Homo sapiens: one gene and its partner. The protein of the gene in region 1 interacts with the protein of each later gene in a pairwise test. Each region holds a gene or a part of one and is shown on either strand. Other genes may lie near its edges.

The links.
Region 2: the proteins of PABPC5 (region 1) and PAIP2 interact in binary tests that used the Homo sapiens proteins (3 or more experiments, as listed by UniProt).

The regions. Positions count from the first base shown.
Region 1 is NC_000023.11:91,430,335-91,438,811, reverse strand, and holds PABPC5 (polyadenylate-binding protein 5), read right to left. Parts: upstream 3,974-8,477; 5' UTR 3,918-3,973; intron 3,910-3,917; exon of another isoform or gene 3,813-3,909; intron 3,378-3,812; 5' UTR 3,235-3,377; coding exon 2,086-3,234; 3' UTR 228-2,085; downstream 1-227. UniProt on the Homo sapiens protein: Binds the poly(A) tail of mRNA. May be involved in cytoplasmic regulatory processes of mRNA metabolism. Can probably bind to cytoplasmic RNA sequences other than poly(A) in vivo.
Region 2 is NC_000005.10:139,357,930-139,366,525, forward strand, and holds part of PAIP2 (polyadenylate-binding protein-interacting protein 2), read left to right. Parts: intron 1-5,829; 5' UTR 5,830-5,855; coding exon 5,856-5,993; intron 5,994-6,634; coding exon 6,635-6,814; intron 6,815-8,596. UniProt on the Homo sapiens protein: Acts as a repressor in the regulation of translation initiation of poly(A)-containing mRNAs. Its inhibitory activity on translation is mediated via its action on PABPC1.

The DNA.
Region 1 (8,477 bases):
TATCAATATGATGTGCACATATTTTTTATCAGATTTAAGCTTTTACATATTATAGAAATTTTTTTGCAGTCAGTAATTAATAACGGTTTTAAGCAAGTGATGTTCATCACGGCATTGTTTACGCATGTAAAAATGTTAAAAATCATATAAATTAGATTCAATAGCAAACTGTTTAGATAAATTATAATATGTCAACACGGGAATAGAATACTATGCAGTCACTAAGATGATGATAGAGATTGATATTTATTGTCAGGAAAAGATGATTATTGTTCAGTTTAAAATTAAAAATACAGAACAGTACATATAGTGTGGATTTTTGGTCAAAATGTTTGTGTATACGTAGGAAAAATTATGAAAAGATATTTACACATTGAAAATATTAATTGTGGTATTTCTGAACTGTGGAAATTTTACTTCCTTCTGCCTTGTGTACATTTTTTACAATGAGCATGTCTTATGTTTATAATCAATATAAACAGTGATTTCCATTTTGAAAATATTTGCAAATGGATAAACCTGTAATTTGTAGATAAACAAATACATAGAAACAGCTTATTGTCATTATTTTATGGTCAAAGAGCTAACAAAAGTGTTAACAAAGTTATATATTTACATTGTACTATGTATGAAAATGAAGATTTGTATATAAGGTAATAAAACTGACAGTAGAGATAAAACATATTCTAATGTTGAATCTGTGGCATAAGTGAATCATATTATAAAAAAGTAATTATTTAAATTTTACATAAATTAGGTATTTTCTTCTTCCTAAAAGGACTTGAACTGGTATATATTTTTAAAAAGGTAATACAAAAAATAGAAAAATAAGTGTAATATGAATGGAAGGCAGGCAATGAGGAGAACAGGAAACTGCAAGTGAAATGTAGAGAATCTCCAATTTAGAAATTACAGGCTAATAAATGTAACGGCAATATTGAACAAACCTTTTTTTTTTTTAATTTTCAAGCAGCCAAGACATAAAGAAAACCATATTGGTTTCACAGTTCTCATATAATGGCTGGAGGCATATGACTTAATCCAAGAGACAACCTATTCCTTACCTTTGAAACACCTGTGAATATTATCAAAAGGACACACACAATAATTTACAAGAGATAACAAGTTTAATAGAAGGTGTTCTTCGAAGAAGTTTTTCAACATCATTCTGTGGAGTACTGCCTTTTATATTGACAGTTGATAAAACCCGAAGGTAAAATATTAAATTATTTATAGGTAAAGGCAATTCAGCGCAGTTATTCATCTTTCTTGTTAATTTAACATGATCCAAGTATATGTACTAAGGAATTTAGAAAAATGAATGGTAGGAGTGGTACTGAAAGTATCCTCACATACCAAATCTCTTAGGAAAGGTTTTTAAGATGCAATTCCTACTTTAAATAGCCACTGCCTAAAGTGTTAATTTTCTCAGTGACTAATTGAGAAAACACCAATATGCTTACTTCTTTGGGCAAGAAGTTAATACGACCACTCCCAACATTTAGTCAAAAGTACTATCAAATCTGTAGCATGTTCACAACATATTAAAAAATGAAACAAGAATACAAATAAAGAAAATAAAATACATTTCACATTTTTTGAAAAAACATTCATTTTTGCATAATAATTTTAAGTGAAATTATGCAGATGTTAATTGCATCACATATGTTTTCCCCTGCTGTACTGACTTCTCAAAAACAAGTTAGAACTTTTCACTGTGATAGATTCAGAAGAACCATGTTGACATTTTCATGAAAAAAAATAGAGTATTACTGAAATAAGAAGGGAAATATACTCAATCAATTGCCTCACCTTGACTGTTCAGGAAAAAAAAGTGGAGGAATACACTTTATTCTACAGATTTCTAAGGATATTACATCAAAAAAAGTACAAAATGACAATTTTACAGTTAGAAATTATGTTCTATTCTAAAATGAATAAAGTTTTCTAGTTTTGCATTTTTTTTTCAAAAGAATTCACTTCAAAAAAAAACTTGTGAATTAGCATAAAATAACCCCTTATCACAAAGGAGCCCAAACTAAGGAGGCACCAACTAAGGCTGAAACAAACTGAGCATTCTTATTCTCAGCACCTGCGCCTGGCCTGGCCCAGGGTGACATGCAGGGGCTTGGAGCCCACTATGCGGCCATTCATCTCATCCACTGCTTTGGTAGCCTCTTCAAAAGAGGAAAAGCAGACCACACCAAATCCTTTGCCTTGCCCCACTTCCATCATCACTTTGGCCCGACTAATTGACCCAAAGGAAGAAAATTCCTCCTTCAGTTTTTCATCATTGATTGTCTCATCCAAGTTCTTAATATAGATAGGCACCCCTGGGGGCCGACTTTTTTCTTTTAACCTCAGCCGTTCAAATCTCCGCCTCAACTCAGCCAGGCGTTCAATTTTCTTCTGTGCTCGCCCTACATAGAGGACTTTTCCATCGATGGACTTTCCATGCAAGTCTAGCACAGCCTTTTGGGCAGCCTCGTGTGTCTCATATCTCACAAATCCAAAGCCTTTAGATTTCCCACTGGCATCTCTTATTACTTTAACACTCTCAGTTGGCCCATATTCACAGAAAAGTTCCTTCAGTTTTTCGTCATCTATGTCGTCTCCAATGTTTTTAACGAAAACATTGGTGAAAGTTGCTCTATCCCTGGTTCTGACCTCAGCCGCCCGCTCTTCTGGGAATTTGAATCTGCCAACATACACCTGGCGGTTGTTGAGCCGCACTCCATTCATGTGCCAGATGGCTCTATTGGCAGCGGCCAGGCTGTCAAAGTGAACATAGGCATAACCCTTAGAGCCGTTGTCATCGCATACGACTTTGCAGGACAGAATGTTCCCAAAAGCAGAAAATAAGTAAAACAGGGCCCTATTGTCTATGGATTTGTCCAGGTTTTTGATGAATATATTTCCCACTCCAGACTTTCTTAAGCGGTCATCTGGCTGAGACCACATAAGGCGGAATGGTTTTCCATTAATCAAATCAAAATTCATGGTGTTCAAGGCCCACTCTGCATCCGCGGGAAAGCGGAAGTTAACATACCCATAGCCCAGGGGGCTGCGGGTCACCGGATCACGGCAGATTCGGGTGAATCGCAGAGGGCCAGCAGGCCTGAACTTCTTATAGAGCATGTCCTCGGTGACATCTGGGTCCAAGTCACCCACGTACAGAGCGGCCTTGAGATACTTCTTTTTCTTGCCAGCAGGATTAGGCTCCCCGCTCCCCATCTCTCTGAGCACTGGGAGGAGGTTCTCTTTGAAGAGAAAAAAGGCTGCTTTCTCTAAGCTATGGGCCAAACAGCTGTTCACGAACAGAAAAAGCCAAGGCAGGCAAAAGGAAGCTAAAAGCAGACTCAGAATCACTGTCGAGGCTGAGAAAATGAAGTTCAGAAACAGCTGGTCAGCAGGCTCAGAACAAACACATCAGACAAAAAGGCGCCCCAAATACGAATCTATTCTCCCTGCGGGGACTTAAAATTGTCACCCGTTCAGATTTAAAATCAGTTTCAAAAGCCAGTACCAGAAACGTAATTTTCCTGTCCCCGTGAAATTGTGAGAAGCCACCAAGCAGCTGGCTGGTTCCCCACAACTAGCATTGCAGACAGAGGCCTCCCGACCCGCTTTCTGCATAAATATAGGCCTAGAGCTCCTGTTGGTTTAAAATGATATCAACAAGGGCAGGGACCGAGCGCGTATTCCTCCGCCGGCTGCCTGGCCAGTCTCGGGCTGGCTAGCCTTTCGCTAAGGCCTCTCCGCACTCAGCGTCTGCGAAAGGGTACACCAGACACTTGGTGCGATAAGACCGGCAGGCAGGCTGCAGGCAGCGGATAGGACACAGAGACAGACAGACAGACACACGCGCGGGGGATCGAAGACCGCCCAGATACCCAAGATGCCCACTGGGTACGGACCGAGTGAGGCGCGGTGATTTCAGCAGCCTGAGGCTCGAGGCAGGTCCGGAGAGACTGACTGGCAAACGCGCAGTGAGTGGGTCAGCTCTGACGCGAGGCGGGTCTGGCCAGATGCGGGGCGGAGTCAGCGAAGAAGGGCAGATGCGCGGCGGGCGGTCCCAGCGCAGACCGATGGGCTGGGGTTTCTCTCCGCAGGACAGTCCAACGGAGGGACCAAGAGCCAGTAGCAGTGATAGGGAGGGGGGACAGGCGGGGCGCGAGAAACCCGGAACCGTGCTAAGTAACTTCCCGCTTCCTCTGTACCAAGATTTAAAAAAAAAGAGAGAGAGAGAAGGGGGGAGAGAGAGAGAGAGAGAGAGAGAGAGAGAGAAGGGGAGAGAATGAGAGAGAGAGAGAGAAGGAGAGAAAGAAAAATCTAAGATGGCTTTTAGATGTTTCTTATATTTTAAATGTTATTTATTATTTAAAACACTATATTTAAGCCGAACATCTAAAAATCACATAAGAAGATGACGACCTGGGCAAAAATAATAAGTTTTAAAAAACTAATTATCAAAATCATTTAAGCTTAGGGAAAAGGATAGGTTGCATACTTTCCTGAGTGCATTGGAAAGTCAAAGTTTACAAATGTCCTGGCCTCCCAATCCAGTGCTAAAGGATCACAGGGTCAAGTAGAACACAGGACCATGTTGCCTTTGGCCTTTAGCCTTACTTCATTAATCTCCAACATAATGGTAATATTTTCCTCAGGTGGTAGGCAAAGAGATCTTTTCTCTGATCCCATAATACTAAGGTTTTAATGATTGGAGAGCCATATAATGGCTTTTGATGGTGTTTAGTGCCACAAAACGTTGAAACTGTTGAGCTGCCGCGAGAATTACAGTTACAAAATCTCAGTTAAAGAGATAAAAGCCACAGAATCAATACAAAATATGTAATTAATATTTACAGATGAAATAAACATGTTAAGATATATGCACTTTACACAATTATGAATTTCATCATGAGTTGTCAACTTGAAACCCTTGAAGGAAACAGTGCCATCAGACTGGACTCAACTCAGCAGTTTCTCAACAATATCTCTCTTCAGAGTATTTGAGAAACCCTTTTGGAGAGAAATTTTGACCGTGTTTTCAGAAATTCACTGATATCTAGCATGCGCAAACAACACTTCAAGAGGCTCCTTCCACAATTCCTACCCCTCCAGAAAAATCCAAACAAAACATCTATCACTACTCTTAGGCTGGAAAAGATCCTGGGAAAAAAAGATTGCAAGAGAAGGACATTACCTTAGTGGGTGTTTTCCTAATAAGTCCTCAGAATAAGAGGCTAAATTAACGTATTCATTCACTTTATACATTTTATAGTGTCTATTAGACTGTAGAGTTGACATTAAACCTCATTATTTACTCAAAAACTTAGTAATTTTCTTTACTATTTTTTTTTTTTGCTTGCTTTCTAGTGTTCTTGGTTAACTAAGACATGGAGATTTTGAGAAAAGGCAAATATGAACAATGATATTATAGACTAATAAATGGGTTTTACAGTGTGACCAGAGTGACCAACATGTGGAAACACTTGTGAACATCTGCCTAGTTTATTGCATTTTGAATATATTTTTATAAACATATTTTCTTTTATGCGTAATTAACAATGGGTTAGAATTCTAGTCTGTTTTGGACTTTTCTCATTTTTAAAACTGCCTTATTGAAAATAGTAAAATAACAACATAAATCCAATTTCCACAATCTCATCATTGATTCAAATCAATATTTTCATCTGTTCCTGTAACCAACTAAATGTTGTCCATATTCAAATTTATTTGTACATATTTTCTCTAAGATTATAGTTAGAATTGATTTGTTATAATACACGTTTTCAAAATAATCACTTCTCTACACTTACCACTTCCATTCAACATAGTACTGGAAACCTTAGGCAGAGCAATTAGGCCAGAGAAGGAAATAAAAGCATCAAAATCAGAAAGAAAAAAGTAAATTAATCTTTGTTTGCAGATGGCATAATCTTATCTGTAGAAAACCCTAAAGTCTAATATTTTTTAAATCTCCATACTATCCAAACTGATCAATATAATCCCTATCAAAAGCCCAATGGCATTTTTTTTTTACAGAAATAGAAAAAACAACCTAAAATTCATTTGTAGTCACAAAAAAACCCTGAATAACCAAAGCAATCTGAGAACGAAGAAAAAAGCTGGAGACACCATTCTTCCTGATTTCAAAACATGTTACAAAGCTACAGTAATTACAACACTGTAGCACTGTCATAAAAAACAGACATATAGGCCAATGAGGCAGAATAAAGAGCCCAGAAATAAACCCACACATGTACAGTTAAGTGGTCTTTGACAAAGGTGCCAAGAAAACACAATAAAGAAAGGATTGTCTCTTTCACAAATAGTGTTAAAAACTTGGATATACGTAAAATTGGATCCTTATCTTACACTGTACACAAAAATCAACTCAAAATACAGACTTTCAACCTGATCCGAAACTATAAAATTTTAGAAGAAAACAGGGTAAGAGCTTCTTGACATTAGTCTTACCAATGACTTCTTGTATATGACACCAAAACACAAGCAAAAAAAAAAAAAAAAGAATATAGAAAAAGAGTACATCAAATTAAAAGGCTTCTGCACAGCAAAATAAACAATCAACAGTGTAAAGGTAGCTTACAGAATGGGAGAAAATTTTTGTAAAACAAGTATTTGATAAGGGGCTATCGTCCCCAAATAAAAGGAACTTTTACAACTTAATGGCAAAAACAAACAAAGAAACAACTTGAATAGTCATCTCTCAAAAGAAGGAATATAAATGGCTAATGGGTAAATGAAAAGATGCTCAACATCATAATCATCATTGGAATGCAAATCAAACCCTTAATGAGATGTCGTCTCACATCTGTAGAGATGGCTATTATAAAAAATCAAAACATAACAAATGTTGGCCAGTATGTGGAAGAATTGGAATCCATTACCTTTGGTGGGAATGTAAAGTGGTACAACTGCTATGGTAAACAGTATGGAGGTTCTTCAAAAACTTAAAAGTAGAAATTCCATATGAAGCAGCAATCCTACTAGGATTGCTAAATCCTTACAAGGTAACATGTAACCTTACTCCTGCAATCTGCCAACATTCATGCTCTCTACCCCTCCCCACACACAACTAATTGAGTTAATATGTATCCAAGTTCTACTGGATAGTAGTCACATATATTTAGGTATATATCCAAAGTAATTGAAATCAGAATCTCAGAGATATTTGCACTCCCGTGTTAATTACAGCATTATTTACCATAGCTAAGTCTTGGAAATGACATAAATGTCCATTGATGGTTGAATGCATAAAGAAAATGTGGTATAAACATACAATGGAATATTATTCAGCCTAAAAAAAAAGAAATCCTGCAGCATGTGGCAACAGGGATGGGATGGAGCTCAAGAACATTATGTGAAGTGAAATAAGCCAATCACGGAAGGGCAAATAGTGCATGATTCCATGTCAATGACATATTTAGAATAGTTAGACTCATGGAAACAGAGAGTAGAGTGGTGGTTGGGAGCGACTGCTGGAGGGGAACTGGGGAATTCAGTGGACATAAAGTTTTGGTTACACAAGATGAACAAGTTCTAGAGAGCTGCTGTACAACATTGTGCCTATATTTAAAAATACTGTATTGTGCTCTTAAAAAGTTTGTTAGAAGGGTTGATCGCATGTTAAGTGTTCTTAGTACAATTTTTTAAAAAAATCATTCAACTGTGAAGAAATATGAGTATTAAAAAACATATAATAAAAATAATATAACAACTTTAAATATATTTTGAGTTAGTTTGGCATCTCCTCAGGGTGATTTTTTATTTTAAAATATTTAATGGACAAAGATCGTATATATTCAAGATGTACAATGTGATGATTTGCTATATGTATGCATTGTATAATGATGACTAAAATCAGATTGATTAACACATCTTAGAGTGCCCTTTTAATTAGATATTATTAGTTTAAAATAAATACTTAGAATAGTACATGTGAATTTAAGCAGTTACTATGTATTCAGAATCCAGTGTATTTAGAGATTTATATATAATTAAGCTATTTTCTGTTATGATACATTGAAACAAGGTAGGCGATCGTTGCCTGCTTAGCAGATAGTCTCAGACAAATTTCTGTTTCTTTGCTAGTGCTTGTTAACTGAACACGTCTCATATAGGGAAAATATATATTTAGCACATTCTCTGATTAGAAATCTTGATTTGTAGTCCTTTCACTTGACCTAGAAGAATAAATAAAAGAATAATAATTTTAAAAGATGTGAACATTATGCTTTATTTTAAATTTTAAAATTGTTGTAAAATACATGTAACAAAATTTACCATCTTGATGATTTTTAAGTGTTTAAGCGGTATTAGGAACATTCATATTGTTGTGTAACCATCACCATTATCTATCTCCAGAACTCTTTTTATCTTGTTAAACTGAAACTCTATACCTATTAACCTGTGCTTTTAGATGACATTTAAAATATATTAAACCGTTTCTC
Region 2 (8,596 bases), on another chromosome or scaffold:
CTAGGGTAGTTTAAAATACCACAGAGGTGTTTTACCAGAATTGAACTGTTGGTTTTTTTTTTCTTAAGCATTCCTCTGGAAGTTTATCATTGCATTGGCAGTTCTTTTTAGTAGTTCTGTAGAGATAGGGGTCTCACTATGTTGCCCATGCTGGTTTTCAACAGCTGGGTCTGGAGGCCCACCTCAGACTCCCAAAGTGCTGGGCCCTGGTGCATGTTTTAGAGTCAGGCTACCTTGACTTGAATTTCAGCTCCACTGTTCACTAGTTGTGTAACCTGGAACAAGTTACTTAAGACTTAGTTCTTTGTCATGGAAATGAATTTGACCATAATCCCTACATCCACAGGACTTGTGAGTATTAAATAGATGATGACTGTAAGGCCCTTAAATGCAATACTATTGTTGCATATGTGTTTACTTTTTAAGAAAAATATATACCACATTAGCAGTGCTTACTTTTGGGAAAAGGATTGGGAGTGAGGATTGTGTCTGGTGGTGGGGAGGGAGTCAGCTACCTTTTTTACTCATTTTTTCTATCACAGTTGAAAATGTATAGCTAAAAGACTGACTAGCATTGAACACATTGGGTATATATTCAAGAGAACTGAAAACGTGCTCATATAAAAACTTGTACACAAATACCGATAACAGCATTATTAATAGCCAAAAAGTGGAAACGACTGCAGATGCTCATTAATCAGAGTAGATAAAATGTGTATCTCTATACAATGGAATATTGTTTGGCAATAAAAAGGAATGAAATGCTGATACATGCTACAACATAGGTGAACCTTGAAAACATTGTAATAAGTGAAAGAAGCCAGACATGAGAAGAGGACACATATTTTATGATTCCATTTATATGCAATGTTCAGAATAGGCAAATCTATAGAGACAGAAAGTAGACTAGTGGTTGTCCAAGTTGGGGGGCTTGGGAAATGGAGAGTGACTACAGATGGGTATGGAGTTTCCTTTTGGGGTGGTGAAAATGTTCTGGAATTAGGTAATGGTGGTGTGTTAAAACCACTGAATCAAACACTTTAAAACAGTAAATTCTTTTTTTGAGACGAGGTCTTGCTCTGTTGCCCAGGCTGGAATGCAGTGGCGTGCGATCATGGCTCTCTGCAGCCTTGACCTCGGGCTAATATGATCTTCCCACCTCACTCTCCTGAGTATCTGGGACCACAGGCGTGCACCACCACACCCAGCTAAGTTATTTGTTTGAGACAGAGTCTTACTCTGTCTCCCAGGCTGGAGAGTGCAGTGGCGCGATCTTGGCACACTGGAACCTCTACCTCCTGGGTTCAAGTGATTCTCCTGCCTCAGCCTCCTGTGTAGCTGGCATTACAGGTGTGCGCCATCACACCCGGCTAATTTTTTTTCATTTTCAGTAGAGACAGGGTTTCGCCATGTTGGCCAGGCTGGTCTCAAACTCCTGACCTCAAGTGATCTGCCCGCCTCAGCCTCCCAAAGTGCTCGGATTACAGGCATGAGCCACAGTGCCCGGTGTGAAAAGTAGGATTTTATGGGCATAAGTTGGGACAGGATACAAATTGGGAAAATAATGAAAACCTGTTTATATTGGGGTGTCTTTGTACCTAACTTAATGATAAGGTTCAGATGCAGATTAACCAAAGTTCCATCCAGTTGTGAGGCAGGATCAATCCCAGCCATTCACAGTGTTAGAGGAATATCTAAAATGTAATTATTTAACAGTAAGCAGTTTGGTAGCCTGCCATATAAGAATGAGTAATTTTCGGCCGGACACGGTGGCTCATGCCTGTAATCCCAGCACTTTGGGAGGCTGAGGTGGGCGGATCACTTGAGGTCAGGCGTTTGAGGCCAGCCGGGCCAACGTGGTGAAACCCTGTCTCTACTAAAAATACAAAAAAATTAGCCGGCCATGGTGGCACGCTCCTGTAATCCCAGCTACACAGGAGGCGGAGGCAGGAGAATCTCTTGAACCAGGAGGCAGAGGTTGCAGTGAGCTGAGATTGCACCACTGTACTCTCCGTCTCAAAAAAAAATGGGTAATTTTCTTCTTTTCTTTTTTTTGAGATGTAGTCGCGCTCTGTTGCCCAGGCCAGAGTGCAGTGGCGCAGTCTCGGCTCACTGCAACCTCCACCTCTCAGGTTCAAGCGATTCTTCTGCCTTGGCCTCCCAAGTAGCTGGGACTACAGGTGCGTGCCACCATACCTGGCTAGTTTTTGTATTTTTAGTAGAGACGGGATTTCACCATATTGGCCAGGCTGGTCTCGAACTCCCGATCTCGTGATCTGCCCGCCTTGGCCTCCCAAAGTGTTGGGATTATAGGCGGGAGCCACCGCACCCAGTCTAATTATTTTCTTTAGAGGAACTGGTTATTATTTAGTCAAAACTTGCTATCAAAATAGTTTTTCATCCAAGTTTAATGATAAAAATAACAGATATCCATTGTCTGTTTTCTGTCTTGTCTGCTTTTACAGTGCCTCAATTTCCTAACAAATCATATTATCATATTTTCTTTCTACTAACACCATAGCACATAACTCTGAGTCTGTTTCTGCCTTTCTTCTTTTGTTTGATTGTATTATTGTTTTTCAAGATAGGGTCTTGCTCTGCCGCCCAGGCTGGAGTGCAGTGGCACTATCTCAGCTCACTGCAACCTCCACCTCCCAGGGTCAGGAGATCCTCCTACCTTGGCCTCCCAAGTAGCTGGGACTGCAGGCGTGCACCACTGTACCCAGCTTTGCCATATTGCCCAGGCTAGTATCAAACTCCTGGGCTCAAGCGATCCACCCCTGTTGACCTCCCAAAGTGTTGGGATTACAGGCATGAGCCGCACCCAGTTTGTTTCTTCCTGCCTTTCTTTTTTTTTTTTTCTTTTTTGGAGACAGGGTCTTGCTTTCTTGCCCAGGCTGAAGTGCAGTGATGTGATCTTGCCTCTCTGCAACCTCTGCCTCCCAGGTTCCAGTGATTCTCTTGCCTCAGCCTCCCAGATAGCTGGGATTATAGGCATGCACCACCACATCCAGCTAATTTTTTGTATTTGTAGTAGAGATGGGGTTCTCTATGTTGCCCAGGCTGGTCTCGAACTCCTGGGCTCAAGCAGTCCGCCTGCTTTGTCCTCCCAAAATGCTGGAATTACTGGAGTGAGCCACAGTGCCCGGCCTGCCTTTCTTTTATAGATATACATACTATAACTAGGACAGAAGTTCCCAGAAATTTTTAGTTGAGGACCTCTCAACAATTAAAATTTTCACCACTATGATCCTGTTGTCATTAGTATCTAGTATTTGTCATATTACATGAACAGCTATGGATTTTTATTACACTTATGTCCTCTTAAGGATAAGTCCATAAAATTTAAAGGGCCAGGCAACACACATAGGGTTCATCTTTTCCCTGAAACTTATCCCAAAGGGAAAAAAATACATATATTTCCAGTAGGAGATTTTAGATTTAGTGTTTTACTTGATTATGACAAATGTGAGGTAAGCAGACCTCAATAAGCCTTTCTTTGGCACAAGTCACTATACTGCTTGAGTTTACGTACAGGTGAATTGTTTTATGTAAATCTATTTTTAGTGATTTCAAACTTAATGAATTGGAATATTTTAGAATGTGAAACCTTGTGCTTCAGATATTTAGCCTGCAATGTATCAATTAGGTTAGATCATGTTATCAGCTATTGAGTAGTATAAGACATCAGGCTTGTATTTGATACTACTTTTACTCAGGTGAAAAGATACTGGGCTGGGCGCGATGGCTCATGCATGTAATCCCAGCACTTTGGGAGGCTGAGACAGGTGGATCATTTGAGGTCTTGAGTTCAAGGCTAGCCTGGCCAACATGGTGAAACCCAGTCTCTACTAAAAATACAAAAGTTAGCCAGGTGATAATGGCATACGCCTGTAATCCCAGCTACTCTGGAGGCTGAGGCAGGAGAATTGCTTGAGCCTGGGAGGCGGAGGTTGCGGTGAGCTGAGATCACGCCACTGCACTCGTCTGGGTGAGACCCTGTCTCAAAAAAAAAAAAAAAAAAAAGATGCCTGAAACTCACTGTACAGTGAGGAACTCCAGACATGGAAGAACTTGACATGGACCTAGAGAAAAAGCAGACACAGAATATGGGCTATCAAGGAGAGATCCAGAGCTATATACATGAAGAACCTAAGAAGTTATTAAAAATCTGTTAGTTTTCACTTTCAATCCCTGGACTTTTTGAAGTCAGTTTTTAAAAATTGAATTTGCTTTTCATCATTTCATCACTTGATGACTCAGTCTTTCAGACCGTGTTTGGTTTTTGTTGTTGTTGTTGTTGTTGTTTGAGGTGGAGTTTCCCTCTGTTGCCTAGGCTGGAGTGCAGTGGTGCAGTCTCGGCTCACTGTACCCTCTGCCTCCTGGTTTCAAGTGATTCTCCCACCTCAGCCTCCTGAGTAGCTGGGATTACAGGCATGTACCACCATGCCCAGCTAAATTTTTTGTTTTTGGGTGTTTTTTTTTTTTTTTTTTTTTTGAGATGGAGTTTCACTCTTTTTGCCCAGGCTGGAGTGCAACGGCGCAATCTTGGCTCACCACAGCCTCCGCCTCCCGGGTTCAAGCAATTCTCCTGCCTCAGCCTCCGGAGTAGCTGGGATTACAGGCATGTGCCACCACGCCCGGCTAATTTTGTATTTTTAGTAGAGACGGGGTTTCACCATGTTGATCAGGCTGGTCTTGAACTCTCGACCTCAGGTGATCCACCTGCCTCGGCCTCCCAAAGTGCTGGGATTACAGGCATGAGCCACCGCGCCTGGCCTTTTTTGTATTTTTAGTAGAGACAGGGTTTCACCATGTTAGGCTGGTCTCAAACTCCTGACCTTAAATGATCCACCTGCCCCCGCCTCCCAAAGTGCCGGGATTATAGGCATGAGCCACTGCACCCAGCCGACCATGCTTGCTTTACAAAGCAAGTGATATGTAATATAAAATATAAATTGGATGGTTTGGAGAGTCCATGTAAGCAACTGATGGACTTCATTTACTGTTATCGGAAAACATTAGATGTGGCCGGGCGTGGTGGCGCACACCTATAATCTCAGCACTTTGGGAGGCCAAGGCAGGCAGATCATCTGAGGTCAGGAGTTCAAGACCAGCCTGGCCAACGTGGCGAAACTCCATCTCTACTAAAAATACAAAAATTAGCTGGGCATGGTAGCACGTGCCTGTAATCCCAGCTACTTGGGAGGCTGAGGCGGGAGAATCGCTTAAACATGGGCAGTTGAGGTTGCAGTGAACCAAGATCATGCCACTGCATTCCAGCCTGGGTGACAGAGTGAAACTCTATCTCAAAAAAAAAAAGAAAACATTAGATGTTTTAGGCTGTCCTCTCCTGTTTCTTAAAACATTAAAATCATTTGGAAAAAACAAACATGAAGCTTTCCAATTATTCAACTTACCGTGTATTTTTAATGTATCATCTGCCTCTAACACCTATTCATGATGCCTGCTAATAATAAACAGATGCTCACTAAGAACTGAAAGAATCAGCTGGGCCTGGTGGCTCATGCATATAATCCCAGCACTTTGAGAGGCTTGGGTGGGAGGATCACTTGAGCCCAGAAATTTGAGACCAGCTTGGGTAACACAGACCTTGTTTCTACAAAAAATAAAAAAAATTCAGCCGGGTGGTGTGGTGGTGCACACCTGTAGTCCCAGTTACTTGGGAGGCTGAGGCAAGAGATCGAGGCTGTGGTGAGCCATGATCACACCATTGCACTCCAGCCTGGATGACGGAGTGAAACCTTGTCTCAGAAAGAAAAAACCCTGAATGAGTAAGTAAATTAACTGTGCTGTTGTTCTTTTAAGGTTAAAAACGACAACCAACATCAGCCATGAAAGATCCAAGTCGCAGCAGTACTAGCCCAAGCATCATCAATGAAGATGTGATTATTAACGGTCATTCTCATGAAGATGACAATCCATTTGCAGAGTACATGTGGATGGAAAATGAAGAAGAATTCAACAGACAAGTTAGTTTTTTGTACAAACATGTTTTTATAGTCCATTCTGGCCCTCAATATGATTGTACTTGTCCCTGAAATGTGTTTATCTTGTCCTTTATGTATAAAGTATGTAGACTGATGTGCCACCACTCCTGTTTATTTGGCTGCTGATTACTACCAGGCTTAACTGCTTACGGAAATAACCTGGGGAGCTTGTTTCAGGGTCCCACCCTAGAGATGTCTGAATCAGGAGGATGAGGGTGGAGCCTGGGAAACTTTTTCAGAGCTCTCAGATGGTTCCATTGAGCAGTCAGATGTGGAAACCACTGCCTTATGCCAGTAAGATTGCTGGTTACCGTGAAAGTCAAGAGAATTCAGGAGTCAGGAGCAGACAGGCACAGAAAAAAGAGACAGGCATCTCTTTTTACTTCTTCCCTGCCACCCTCAATGGAAAAAAGAATGTTCTACTAATAAAAGTAAAAACATAGAAAAACCCTAAACAGATAGATCTTCGCCGGTCATTATGGTAAGCATTTTTTTTCCTTAGCATGGAAGCAGAAAAGAAAGTATGACTTTGTGCCTTTAAATGGTTTAGTTCAAGATATTTTAAGCCATTCCTAGTGATATCTACCAAGTGTGCTATAAATTATCCTTTATTATAAATCTAGATAGAAGAGGAGTTATGGGAAGAAGAATTTATTGAACGCTGTTTCCAAGAAATGCTGGAAGAGGAAGAAGAGCATGAATGGTTTATTCCAGCTCGAGATCTCCCACAAACTATGGACCAAATCCAAGACCAGTTTAATGACCTTGTTATCAGTGATGGCTCTTCTCTGGAAGATCTTGTGGTAAAAAGTTATTTTTCATCTTTTTAAAACCTAGTGCATCTTTTGCATAAGTGGAAAAGCCAGCTCCCATCTATTTAAGAATTCTACATCTCTTTCCCCTTCAGAAATTGTGCTGCTTCTGGCCGGGCATGTGGCTCACGCCTGTAATCCCAGCACTTTGGGAGGCCGAGGCAGGCAGTTGACTTGAGGTCAGGAGTTTGAGACCAGCCTGACCAACATGGAGAAACCCCATCTCTACTAAAAATAAAAAATTAGCCGGGCATGGTAGCACATGCCTGTGATCCCAGCTACTCGGGAGGCTGAGGCAGGAGAATCGCTTGAACCCGGGAGACGGAAGTTGTGGTGAGCTGAGATTGCACCATTGCACTCCAGCCTGGGCAACAAGAGTGAAACTCTATTAAATAAATAAATAAATAAATAAATAAATAAATAAATAAATAGAATAAAAAATACAAAATTTGGCCAGGCACGGTGGCTCATGCCTTTAATTCCAGCACTTTGGGAGGCCGAGGTGGGTGGATCACCTGAGGTCAGGAGTTCAAGACCAGCCTGGCCAACGTGGTGAAACCCCATCTGTACTAAAATTACAAAAATTAGCTGGGTGTGGTGGTGCATGCCTGTAAGTAATCCCAGCTACTCAAAAGGCTGAGGCAGGAGAATTGCTTGAATCTGGGAGGCGGAGGTTGCAGTGAGTGGAGATCGCACCATTGCACTCCAGCCTGGGCAACAGAGTGAGACTCTGACTCAAAAAAAAGAAAAAAAAAATACAAAAATTAGCTGGACATGGTGGCGGGCGCCTGTAGTTCCAGCTACTTGGGAGGCTGAGGCAGGAGAATCGCTTCAACCTGGAAGGCAGAGGTTGCAGTGATCCGAGATTACGCCACTGCACTCCAGCGTGGGTGACACAGCAAGACTGTCTCAAAAAAAAAAAAAGGAAAAAGGAATTGTGCTGCTTTTTACAATGGAAGCAGAGTCTCACGACATGGAATCACTTCCGGCAACACTGTAGAGCTAGTCTTAGACGGACTTCTAGCCCCTGCTTTTAGTCCTGATGTTGCCCTAGGGTACTTAAATGTCCTAAAGAATTAATAATTTAAAAACACACACAATATTATCATGTTACTTGCCTATACAGAAGTAGCTTGATGGAGAAGTTTTGCTCTTTAATCTTGTCTTGGCTGGGTGCAGTGGCTCATGCCTGTAATCCCAACACTTTGGGACGCCGAGGCACGCGGATCACGAGGTCAAGAGTTCGAGACCAGCCTGACCAACATGGTGAAACCCCGTCTCTACTAAAAGTATACAGAAAATTAGCTGGTTGTGGTGGTGCGTGCCTGTAATCCCAGCTACCTGGGAGGCTAAGGCAGGAGAATCGCATGAATCTGGGAGGTGGAGGTTGTGGTGAACCAAGATGGTGTCGTTGCACTCTAGCCTGGGCGACAGAGTGAGACTCCACCTCAAAAAAAAAAAAAAAAAAAAAAGCGGGGTGGGGGGAATTGTGATAACTAAACATCAGCACTAGAGTGAGAACTGGCTGGGTCCACTGAACTAATCTGTACACCATGATTACCTATGAAGCATTAAATACAAAAATCAGTTCTTTAGTTACATCCCAACATGCTCAGTTGTCTGGGCATGTTAATTTTTTAAAAGTACTACAGAGGATTTATTATACAGCCAACTTGCCTGAGTCGGTCATTTGGAAACCATTCTTCTAAAGGATGGTGTAGAGAGCACTGAAGTTTACATTGTGGTATATAGCCTTTGTTGCAGTAAGTGATG